Linked DNA regions of Homo sapiens. The protein of the gene in region 1 purifies or fractionates together with the protein of each later gene. This does not show direct contact. Each region holds a gene or a part of one and is shown on either strand. Other genes may lie near its edges. The genes, in order: GFM2, ACAD8 and CZIB.

The links.
Region 2: the proteins of GFM2 (region 1) and ACAD8 fractionate together in Homo sapiens (co-fractionation; one large-scale study listed by BioGRID). This does not show direct contact.
Region 3: the proteins of GFM2 (region 1) and CZIB fractionate together in Homo sapiens (co-fractionation; one large-scale study listed by BioGRID). This does not show direct contact.

What each region holds. Positions count from the first base shown.
Region 1 is NC_000005.10:74,760,481-74,764,135, forward strand, and holds part of GFM2 (ribosome-releasing factor 2, mitochondrial), read right to left. Parts: intron 3,287-3,655; coding exon of another isoform or gene 3,263-3,286; coding exon 3,200-3,262; intron 507-3,199; coding exon 422-506; intron 1-421.
Region 2 is NC_000011.10:134,263,426-134,266,368, reverse strand, and holds the end of ACAD8 (isobutyryl-CoA dehydrogenase, mitochondrial), read right to left. Parts: coding exon of another isoform or gene 2,873-2,943; exon of another isoform or gene 2,424-2,872; intron 1,462-2,423; coding exon 1,409-1,461; 3' UTR 514-1,408; downstream 1-513.
Region 3 is NC_000001.11:53,213,448-53,217,638, forward strand, and holds the end of CZIB (CXXC motif containing zinc binding protein), read right to left. Parts: intron 3,413-4,191; coding exon 3,335-3,412; intron 2,610-3,334; coding exon 2,544-2,609; intron 1,290-2,543; coding exon 1,212-1,289; 3' UTR 652-1,211; downstream 1-651. Other genes in the region: CPT2 (carnitine O-palmitoyltransferase 2, mitochondrial isoform 1 precursor), read left to right, coding at 1-148.

The DNA.
Region 1 (3,655 bases):
TAACCTAAACAATCCCAAATACTTAGCCAAACTACTTATAACAATCCTCAAAATAAATTATTCTAGTAAATCTCTCTTGACAGAAAACACTTGCATAAAAAACAGAAATAAACTAGAAAAAGAAATTCACAAGAGCACTCTACAATTACACTCACATGTTAAACTTGCAAACTAGCTACTAAAGCCACCAACCTTTCCTTTGCTCAGTTCATCAGCGTGTTCCTCAGATAAGGAGCACAACTCTACTAGTATTTCCTTCTGGCACCTATCTGAACACTCCCGCCCCTAATAATCTCAAGGAAATAGCCAAGAAGTAAAAAATGGTTACAGAGCCCTAATAAGGGAGATTCTTGCAAACAAGAGAGAGAAAAGAGATAAAGCAAACAGCTTAGATAAAATTAGAAGACTCTAACATTTGTACCTGGTAGAGAACTGCAATTTCTTCCAAGCGGCACATGTGGCTTTAATCTTTTTAAACTTGCTCTTATTTTATAGCAGCATATATTCTAGTAAAGAGAAAAAGAAACTTGGCATTAATTTTATTTTAGCATCACTTATTACAGTGTTAATATTGTAATTACGCTTTGTCAGAAGATAAAATATTTTGTATAGCTTTAAAGTAGTCCTAATTTATTAACTCCAATTCTTTTAAAAAGTGACAATCCAAATATATCCTAGGGGAAAGAATAAGGATAAAATTAATACTGATTTGCTATTTTGAGCTGACCTTAAAACAATGGTTTTCCTCAACCTGCAGCATTAGCATGGGCTGAGGGCTTGTTTGAAAAACATGCTTAGGCTCCAATCCAGACAAGAGAATCAGAAACTCTTGGGGATGGAGCCAAACAATCTGTTTAAACTAGCTCTCCAGTTGATTCTAATAGCTACAGATTGAGAACCACAACCCTAAAGTTCTGAAAGTCAGAAGCTGAGTCAGAAAGGTTAAATAAGGTATCTCACCCAGGATACACCTTGGTTTTCCTCTACATCTGCTGAAAGGTCTGTAGGGGGCAATGAACTCTAAAACCATTAGTTGTTTTCAGGATTTATTACAGTTACACATTAGAATCATCTGGAAAGCTTCTTGAAGACACGGGGGTGGGGAGAGAAAATGAGAACTGGAGGAACTGGGCAGTGGCATTTAAAAAAAATTCCCAGGGTGTCTCCAATGTAGCATTCAACTGAGAATCACTGAGTTAGAGCAGGTCTGCTTAAGGCCAAGCCTACCTCCTCTACCTTAGCTGCTTACCTAACCTTCTCATGTTCTCATGTAAAGGCTGAATATTCTCCACCTCAGTTTATGCCCAGACCACTAGATATACATTTAATAGCTGCCAATGTAGTTGGAATTGTTAGTGTATGTAATGATTTAGGGCCACCACAATCTGCTTTTTGTTTCATGAACTGCGTATCTGTGCGATCTATATTATTTCTACATTAGTTACCAAGTTTCTGGCAATAATAAGCTACTATCCTCAGAAAATAATTCCACTGCATAATGACTAGGATAAGACCCAGTGTCTATCACAGCGTGCATAGTCTGAAAGCGTCAGCAATAAAAGCACTGAAGAAAAACTGGGTAACTCCTTGGGCCACTTAATGAGATCACAAATGGAATACAGAAATATATCTTCTTCAAAATGCTGCTCAGGTGATTTTTAAAGTAGCAAAAAAAAATTGTAGATGAATGGTAAGGCTTCTTAGCAACAACAACAAAAAAACTGTAGACGAATGGTAAGGCTTCTTAAGGGTTACAGGTTCTCCCATACAGCAGTCACACCCTATCCACAGGGGTTATATTCCAAGACCCCCAGTGGATTCCTGAAACCTCAGATAGTACAGAACCTAATTACTATCAATCAGAACATGGTTCTGTTCATGTCTTCTGCCCACAAACTGAATACCTTTTCCATCTTAACTGAGCTCTTATCATGTTATGTGACCATAATTTTTGTAGTTTGAAGTGCAACAGTAAAACTAGCAAAAATGTCTTTTTCTTTCTTCACAATTTCATGGATAGAAGATTCATTCCTACCATAGATCTTAGCAACCTCAGCATATGATTTGTTTTTTTCCTTATTAAGCCAAGAATGTTCACCTTTTCACTTAAAGGGAGCACTTTATGGCTTCTCTTTGGCACATCCAAATTGCCAGCATCACTACTCTTGCGCTCTGGGACCGTGATTAAGTAAAATAAAGGTTACTTGAACACAAGCACTGCAGTATCACAACAGTGAATCTGATAACCCAGATGGCTACTGACTCATGGGTGGGGAGTGTATACAATGTGGATATGCTGGGCAAAGGAATGACTCACCTCCCAGGTGGGATTAAGTGGGATGGCATGAGATTTCATCACAGTACTCAGAATGGCACACAATTTAAAACTTATGAATTATTTCTGGAATTTCCCATTTAATTTTCAGACCACAGTTGACTCTGAGCAACTGAAACAGCTAAACAGCAAAACCATGAATAAGGGGAAACTATTGTACTCCCTGTTAAGTCACTGAAGATAAAAAGAAACAACCCAAACAAGCTTTAAAGTAATCTCTCACTTAGCTATAGATAAAAAGGGTATTATTATGTTTGAGATTTAATATCTTTAAGTATACTGAAGATGTGATAGTTTAGAAAATAATTTATAGTGTTTTGAAGAGGATTCAGGAGTCAGACCAGAGCTAAAGACTAAAACAATGTTCCTGAGACAAATATCAGACTGCCGAAGAAGCTGGCTTCCAACAGCTCTGCAGAAGACAGCCAAAAGTAGTTGTATCAACCATTGTATAATTATGTTGTACTTTGATATTAACAGAAACTTTATTTCATAAGAGTCTCAATCCATGGATACTTAATATTACAAAGCACATTATTTGTTAGTAGTTTAAAGATGTGCATTAAGTGATGACATTCTTAGATATAAAACCCTACCCCTCCTTCAAAAACAACTGGCATTTTAGTACTCCATGAGACCAGTATTTAGCTACAGCTGTTCTTTTACTTTTAAATTAAGGTAATTTCCTCTTATATTTCTTAATAAATTAAGGTAATTACTTTCAAATTAGTTTAGCTTGAAGATTTCCAAAGGTTATGACTCAACTAAATTTGGAATCAACAGCTGATGAGATATACTGGGCATTTTAGGCAGTAAAGGAGCTGAGGTTGTTAAAGGACACTTAATTTTATAAGAAATGCTTACATTAATATACACACTGGGTATTGTCTGATGACTCATTGCAAATATCCTCAAGTTGGTCAACATCTTGATCCTCCAAACTGTTACTGTCTGAAAAAATAAATATACAAAATCAAAAAACTAAACTTATGTATTACATGTCAGCAAGGCATATGTAAGTTAGACATATGTAATATGTATGGTAAAATGTATTACTTTTAAAAAGTTGGAACAATATTTTTAGCTACCAAAAATTCAATGCATCATTCAGAAAATGGAAAATTCTGATTAAATATGAGAAATATGGTTTTTAGGTTTAAAATGTCCCTTATTTGTCAATGTAATGTTTAAAGAAAGATATGGCGATACAGTAGAAATCAACTTATTGAAATTACAAAACATTGTATCAACCAAAATGCATTGTTATGTAAATGTATAGAATTAAGCATAAAAAGCTAAGCATCCACATATTAACTTGGT
Region 2 (2,943 bases), on another chromosome or scaffold:
CTAAACATTGGCTTGTAGTTAATGTCTTGCGTATTCTTTTCAATAGGGATGAGGGGATGGAGTAACATAGTAAGTTATAACAGAGCTCCCCTGGCTGGGCACAGTGGCTCACACTTGTAATCCCAGCACTTTGGGAGGCCGAGGTGGGCAGATCACTTGAGGCTAGGAGTTTGAGACCAGCCTGGCCAACATGGTGAAACCCTGTCTCTACTAAAAATACAAAAAGTAGCCGGACGTGGTGGCTTGCGCCTGTAGTCCCGGCTACTTGTGAGGCTGAGGCAGGAGAATCGCTTGAACCCCAGAGGAAGAAGTTGCAGTGAGCTGAGATTGTGCCACTGCACTCCTGCCTGGGCGACAGAGCGAGACTCTGTCTCAAAAACAACAAAAAACAGCAAACAAACAAACAAAACAAGGTCTCCTGAAGTCCCATCTGTGAATCTCACTTTAATTCTACTTTCATACATCATAAACAATGCTTAGTTTGCAAAGTTATTAATAATTTAAGGAGCCTGCTTTTTAAAAGCCAAATTGGACGAGAGTTTTATTATTCCAAAATCCAGTTAAGTGTTTAATCAAATACAATTAAACATTTAAAATAAAAATCAACTATAGTAGAACCAGAGGTGGTGAAGGATAGATTTTATCAATGTGATTAAAAATATTTAAAAGGAGGAACAGCTTCAGAAAAGGAAACAAAAACACAAAAAAAATATTCAAAGTGTTTATCAGGAAAAGAAACACTGAATAGCACTCCTAGACCACAGGCTTCTTAACATGAAACCCAACGAATATTCAAAATTCAAAAGTCTCAGCCCTTGATATTGAGGCAGTCCAGAAGTAGAAATACACCCTAAATCACAGCTTAGGAGTAAGTTTCCAAATATCCATTTTATCATGATTTACATTCAGAGGTGTGCTATCCAGAGAAACCTTCTGCATCTGTAGCTGTGGCACAGAGAACGACACAGACAGGAGGGCATTCCTCCATTTCCCCTTCCCACACCTTTGCTCTAGAATCAGGAAGAGCATCAGTGAAAGTCCCCAGGCCCCTAGAGGAGGGATCCAGTGAACTAGTAAAATGCAGACTAATCAAGATAAAGTGGATCCAAGAAAGGACTTTCATGGTTTGACGGTGAATCTTCACTGGTCACCCTTCTGGCATTAGGAAAACAAGGTAGTATGTGTTCTTCTGATGTTTCTCATCAGTCCAGCTCTTCCGGTTCCACTGGGGATTCTGCCCCAGTCCAAGACCCGATGCTGGTGCCAACACACAGGGTGCAGGTCCTGCCCTAGAGGAGCTCAGCCCTTGGGTCTAATCCATGATTCCTTTGGAATAGAGCGGCCCACATGGCACCACTCAACACTGACTGCAGTCGCACTGAACACCAGGCCAGAACAAGTGTGGGTTCTACTCCTGAAGCAGGCTTCTAGAGATCAGTATCCTCATCACTTCATTGCTACCTGTAAGAGGGAGGAAGGAGGAAGAATTTCACAGCAGCAAAGTCTGAGAGTTTAGTAAAGCTCTGACCAGGCTGCTCCAGGCCTAGTTCAGAGTAGCTGCAGATTTAAACTACAATCATTGCTTTTAGCCTGGGAGAGATGAGATTATCAGAGACTTCTCTACAAAGTACTGAAAAATGTCAGGAAATAATACTTTTTTAAAAACTTCTTCTGATGGTAAAAATGCTTATATAAAGTTTAAAAAGGCAGAATAAAAACAGTATATACAGGATAATTCTAATTAAAATTAAAAATGTACCAACAAAGGCAGAGTAAAATGCCTAAAAGGAGATGTACCAAAATAACATTCTGGATGTAGAAACATGAGTGATTTTTTTTCTTTTACTTTTCTTTTGAGACAGTCTTGCTGTCGCCCAGGCTGGAGTGCAGTGGTGTGATCTTGGCTCACTGCAACCTCCGCCCCCCAGGTTCAAGCAATTCTCTTGCCTCAGCCTCCTGAGTAGCTGGGACCACAAGCATGTGCCACCAGGCCCCACCAGGCCCGGCTAATTTTTTGTATTGTTTTTAGATGGAGTCTCACTGTCACCCAGGCTGGAGTGCGATGGTGCAATCTCAGCTCACTGCAACCTCCACCTCCTGGGTTCAAGCGATCTTCCTGCCTCAGCCTCTCGAGTAGCTGGGATTCCAGGCATGCACCACCACGCCCAGCTAACTTTTTATAATTTTAGACAGTCGGGGCTTCACCGGGTTGGCCAAGCTGGTCTCGAACTCCTGGCCTCACGCGATCCACCCGCCTCAGCCTCCCAAAGTGCGGCGATTATAGACATAAGCTACCGCACCCAGCCTACTTTTCCTAATTTTATAAGGTTTCAACAATAAATACACATTTCTTTGGTAATCAGAAAACTGACTTACAAAAGAATGAAAACATTTTCCCTGAAAGGAGGGTATCAATTATTTGCTTCATTTTTAGCAGTGGCCTTTAATGCAAAAAGAAATATAAACCCCCTCGAGGAATCAGTAGTCACATCGTCTCAAATAAAGCATAAACTGTAGATTTATCCAACAGTAAAGTCCATGATGAAACAAAGTGATACAGTGATGAGTGCCCCAATTCTTCTGTAAGTGGGTGATGGTGTGGCCTACAATAAATGTTTTCCTGCTTATTATTGCAGGGTGGAGAGAGAGTTAGAATGAAGGCGAAGTTTCCTACGCACATAAAGCTCAGTGAGAAAGCAATTCCAAGAGTAATGGAAGGAAAACGACTCTCGGGAATTCAGTTTGAACACTGGCGACTGAGCCCATAAACATCTTTCTGGAATGAGGTTTGCAGAAGAAAGCAGCGGTCTAACCTGTGGTAGCCTGTGACTCTGACATTAACACCAGAGCGGTGGGTCTCAAAGTGTGGTTCTCAGACAAGCTGTGGCAGCCTCACTTGAAGACTTGTTGCAGATACAAATTCCCAGGCCCACACTAGACCCT
Region 3 (4,191 bases), on another chromosome or scaffold:
TGGTGTTGGGTATGCTGTTCATGACAACTGGATAGGCTGCAATGTCTCTTCCTACCCAGGCCGCAATGCCCGGGAGTTTCTCCAATGTGTGGAGAAGGCCTTAGAAGACATGTTTGATGCCTTAGAAGGCAAATCCATCAAAAGTTAACTTCTGGGCAGATGAAAAGCTACCATCACTTCCTCATCATGAAAACTGGGAGGCCGGGCATGGTGGCTCATGCCTGTAATCCCAGCATTTTGAGAGGCTGAGGCGGGTGGATCACTTGAGGTCAGGAGTTTGAGACCAACCTGGCCAACATGGTGAAACCTTGTCTCTACTAAAAATACAAAAATTAGCTGGGTGTGGTGGCATGTGCCTATAATCCCAGCTACTTGGGAGGTTGAAGCAGAATTGCTTGAACCCAGGAGGTGGAGGTTGCAGTGAGCTGAGATCACACCACTGCACTCCGGCCTGGGCGACAGAGCGAGACTGTCTCAAAAAAACAAAAAAGAAAAAAAAACTGGGGCCTGTGTAGCCAGTGGGTGCTATTCTGTGAAACTAATCATAAGCTGCCTAGGCAGCCAGCTACAGGCTTGAGCTTTAAATTCATGGTTTTAAAGCTAAACGTAATTTCCACTTGGGACTAGATCACAACTGAAGATAACAAGAGATTTAAGTTTTAAGGGCATTTAATCAGGAGGAAAGGTTTGGAAAACTAACTCAGGTGTATTTATTGTTTAAGCAGAAATAAAGTTTAATTTTTGCTTGAAGATGGTTCTTAATTTCTTTTAACCTAATTCCTAATCCTCACAAAGATCTTTCCAACAGCAAGTTCAGTAAGTTCAGGTAACAGTACGTCACCATTGGCTTCTGGCTCATTGAGTGATGGTGGGATCGCGGTTTCATCTCTGTAAACTTGCCCTTGACTGGGGAGATACCATCTCCTTAAAAATACTCTTCATTTTCCTAAGGAGTGAACTGCTGCTGCACGAATTCTTATTTGTGGAGGGAGTAGCTGCCTCCTTACTTCACCTTCATGCACCAGTGCAGCGTGAACAGGGGCTTTATTGATGGGGCTTGGGAAGCTGTAATAAAGTCCAGCATGCAGATTGTGAAGGTTTCGTATAGCCACCAGGAGACAAGGGTCAAAGGAACGAGCCTCTGTGGGCTCTGCTGCTTAGAGTACTTTGTCCTTTCTCAGTTCTTAAGGGCAACTGGGAAGGAAGAGGGATCAGCACTTCACAAACTGGTGGGTGACCTCATAGATTCCCACAGACTCCTGGGCCTTTTCATCATAGTCAGTCCAGTCCTGGGAAACAAAATGGCATTGTTAGCCTCACAACGCAGAATGCAGCCATGTGGAGAGCAGAAAACTGGGACTTAAAAGGCCCAGCTCAGGCTCTGACTCAAATAATCATGAACATGTATGACCCTGAACAGAGCCAGATAGCTCAGGCCTGAATTCTAGCTCTTTCAGTTGTATGACTGTGGGCAAATCACTTAACTTCTCTGAGTCCCTTCTCCGAGTCCTGTCTTCTATTTAAAAAAAACAAAAACAAAAAAAGGACAATGGAGTTCATATTGAATGTTGAAAGAATCAAATGAGGTAACACATTTAAAAGCACTCAGCAGCCGGGCGTGGTGGCTCATGCCTGTAATCCCAGCACTTTGGGAGGCCAAGGCAGGTGGATCATTTCAGGTCAGGGGTCCGAGACCATCCTGGCCAACAAGGTGAAACCCGGTCTCTACTAAAAATACAAAAAATAGCCAGGAATGGTGGCAGGCGCCTGTAATCCCAGCTACTTGGGAGGCTGAGGTAGGAGGATCACTTGAGCCCAGGAGGCAGAGGTTGCAGTGAGCTGACATTGCACCACTGCACTCCAGCCTGGGCGACAGAGTGAGATTGTCTCAAAAAATACATAAAATAAAATAAAAGCACTCAGCATAGTGAGTGCCTGGCACATGTAAGAGCTCAGTAGATGCTAGCTGCTGTTATTAGGTGCTGAGCAAATGAAATGAAGTTTTTGTCCTTCCTTCAAGGCTTGAGCACAAGGCTTTTCTATCTGCAGGGTAGTAATATGTCCAGTAATACAGACTATTTCTTGTTCTTCATGGTAGTTAGGTGCAGTAAAGCCACCACAAACACTGAATTAGGGAATACTGAATGAATACTCCCCGGGGAAATACAGGGTTAGGTTCCTATGAGCCTCTGGTCACATTTTCATCAACCAATCAATAATCTAGCTTTATGTGTTTCTGTTTAAAGATAACTTATTTAATATATATTGTTGATTCATGAACTCACAGCCAGCAGCACTATAGCTCATGCCTGAATAAAGCTTATCTAACACGTATTCTCTCTGTAAGGGGCATCATAGCTTTCTCATACGTAGGAACATTAGAAAGCACTTTAGCACTATACCTGTGGCCATTTCAACAGCAAAATCACTAACAAAAAGCACAAAAATACAGAGTTGGCTTTCCATTGATGAGCCTTGTCCACCAAAAAAATAATTCCCACCAGGTGCCCTACAGTACCTCCCAAAGCCCCCAAGTCTCATACCTTCTCCTGCAGATTAATGTCACTGAAGGCTGTCCCTGACTCCACACCTTCAGCAGCAAACCCAGCCTGCAGGGCACAAGAAGGTACCAGTTAGTCTTGGCAAAAGAAGGCATTGGGCTATAAGTAAGGGCCGGCCAGGCTGCTGGCTCTTCTCACACTTCTGGGATGGAGGACAGAGATGCAGTATGAGTACCTGTCTTGGAATAACTGCTGAGCTTCCAGGACCCGGCAGCTGCCTCAGAACTAGAGTGGTGGTTTCTCTGAATTACAGCCTTGGACCAGAAGGCAGCAGGGGCAGCGTAATCCCTTCCACTAGCCCTGGTTTGCTGAAGGCTCCTGGGCATGTCATTTCCCAGGTTGGACCTTAGTTATTGATAAAACGGGGATGAAGTATTTGCTCTTCTGCCTACCTCACAGATTTGTTGTGAGGTGAAACATGCACAAATAAAGGGGGATGAGCACCAGCTCAAGTCAGATAGATCTGGGTTGAAACTATAGCTCCACTGCTTACTGTGTGACCCTGAGCAAGTTGCAAAATCTCTTCAGTTCCTTCCTCATCTGAAGAACAGGATGAATAAATTCATAGGGTTACCATAAGAATTAAATGTGGTAACATGTAAAAATGATGGCATGGGTGCCCAAGCATACAGCAGCCACTTAAGGGACAATTATTACTACCGCTAGAAAGGAGAATGTCTAGTCCATGGTATCTGTAGGTAGCACAGTTCTGGCTGTCACTTCATACATCCCCTCCCCAAAGACAAAGATTCCCCAGAAAGATACACACACACCTGCGGCTGGAAATCAACTGGTTCAAGGCCCCGGCACTCAAACTCCACTATTGTCTTGAAGTTCTCATTGTCTTCAGCCTAGAAAGGAAGTGTGTTGAGGAGGCAGGCCCAAATGAGCTCTCAGGATGACCCCATGGCCCCTCTCCTTCCTGCCAAATGGGCACTTACTGCCCCTGGAGGCCTAGTATGAGACCCAGGAAGAACTCATCCCCTTCTTAGAGGAAGCCTGCCTTGGGCACCTGCTCCCTATGAAGCTTTCTGTAGACAGCAGACATGGAGGCTGCAGAAGAGCGTGGATGCTGGGGTCAACCTGCCTGGATGTAAGGTAAGCTCTGCCTATCTTCCCCTCTGGGCCCAAGATTCCTAAACTGTCAAATAGAGCCGAGGAAACCTCTACAATTTTACTGTCAGATTTTGAAATGCATATAAAGTGCCCAGCACAGTGCTCAATAAATAGTAAATAAAATTATCAACACCAAAAATATGAACAAGAATGTTAAGCTCCAAAGTCTCTAGATCATCCAAACAGACCCAGTACACTTAACCATAGCCTTTTGCTGACCATCTGCCATGCAGTAAGGGCAGAGGGCTGTCTTATAGCCTTTGAAATGGTTATGTATGTGGAGGGGGCACCTCTTGGGGGGCAGGTGGCCAGGAAATTCATGCCTACCTGACCTATGGGCTTAGGGACCACAAGTGCCATGCCCTACATTCAGTCTCATCCTGTCATTCACTGTAAAGTAATTTCCTGCACACTGACCACATCTCTGGCACTGGTAAGGCACTTCTCTGTTAGGGCCCTAGTTCGATTCTTGTTTTTTGTATTTTCCACTAGATTATTATGTACGTGAAGGCGA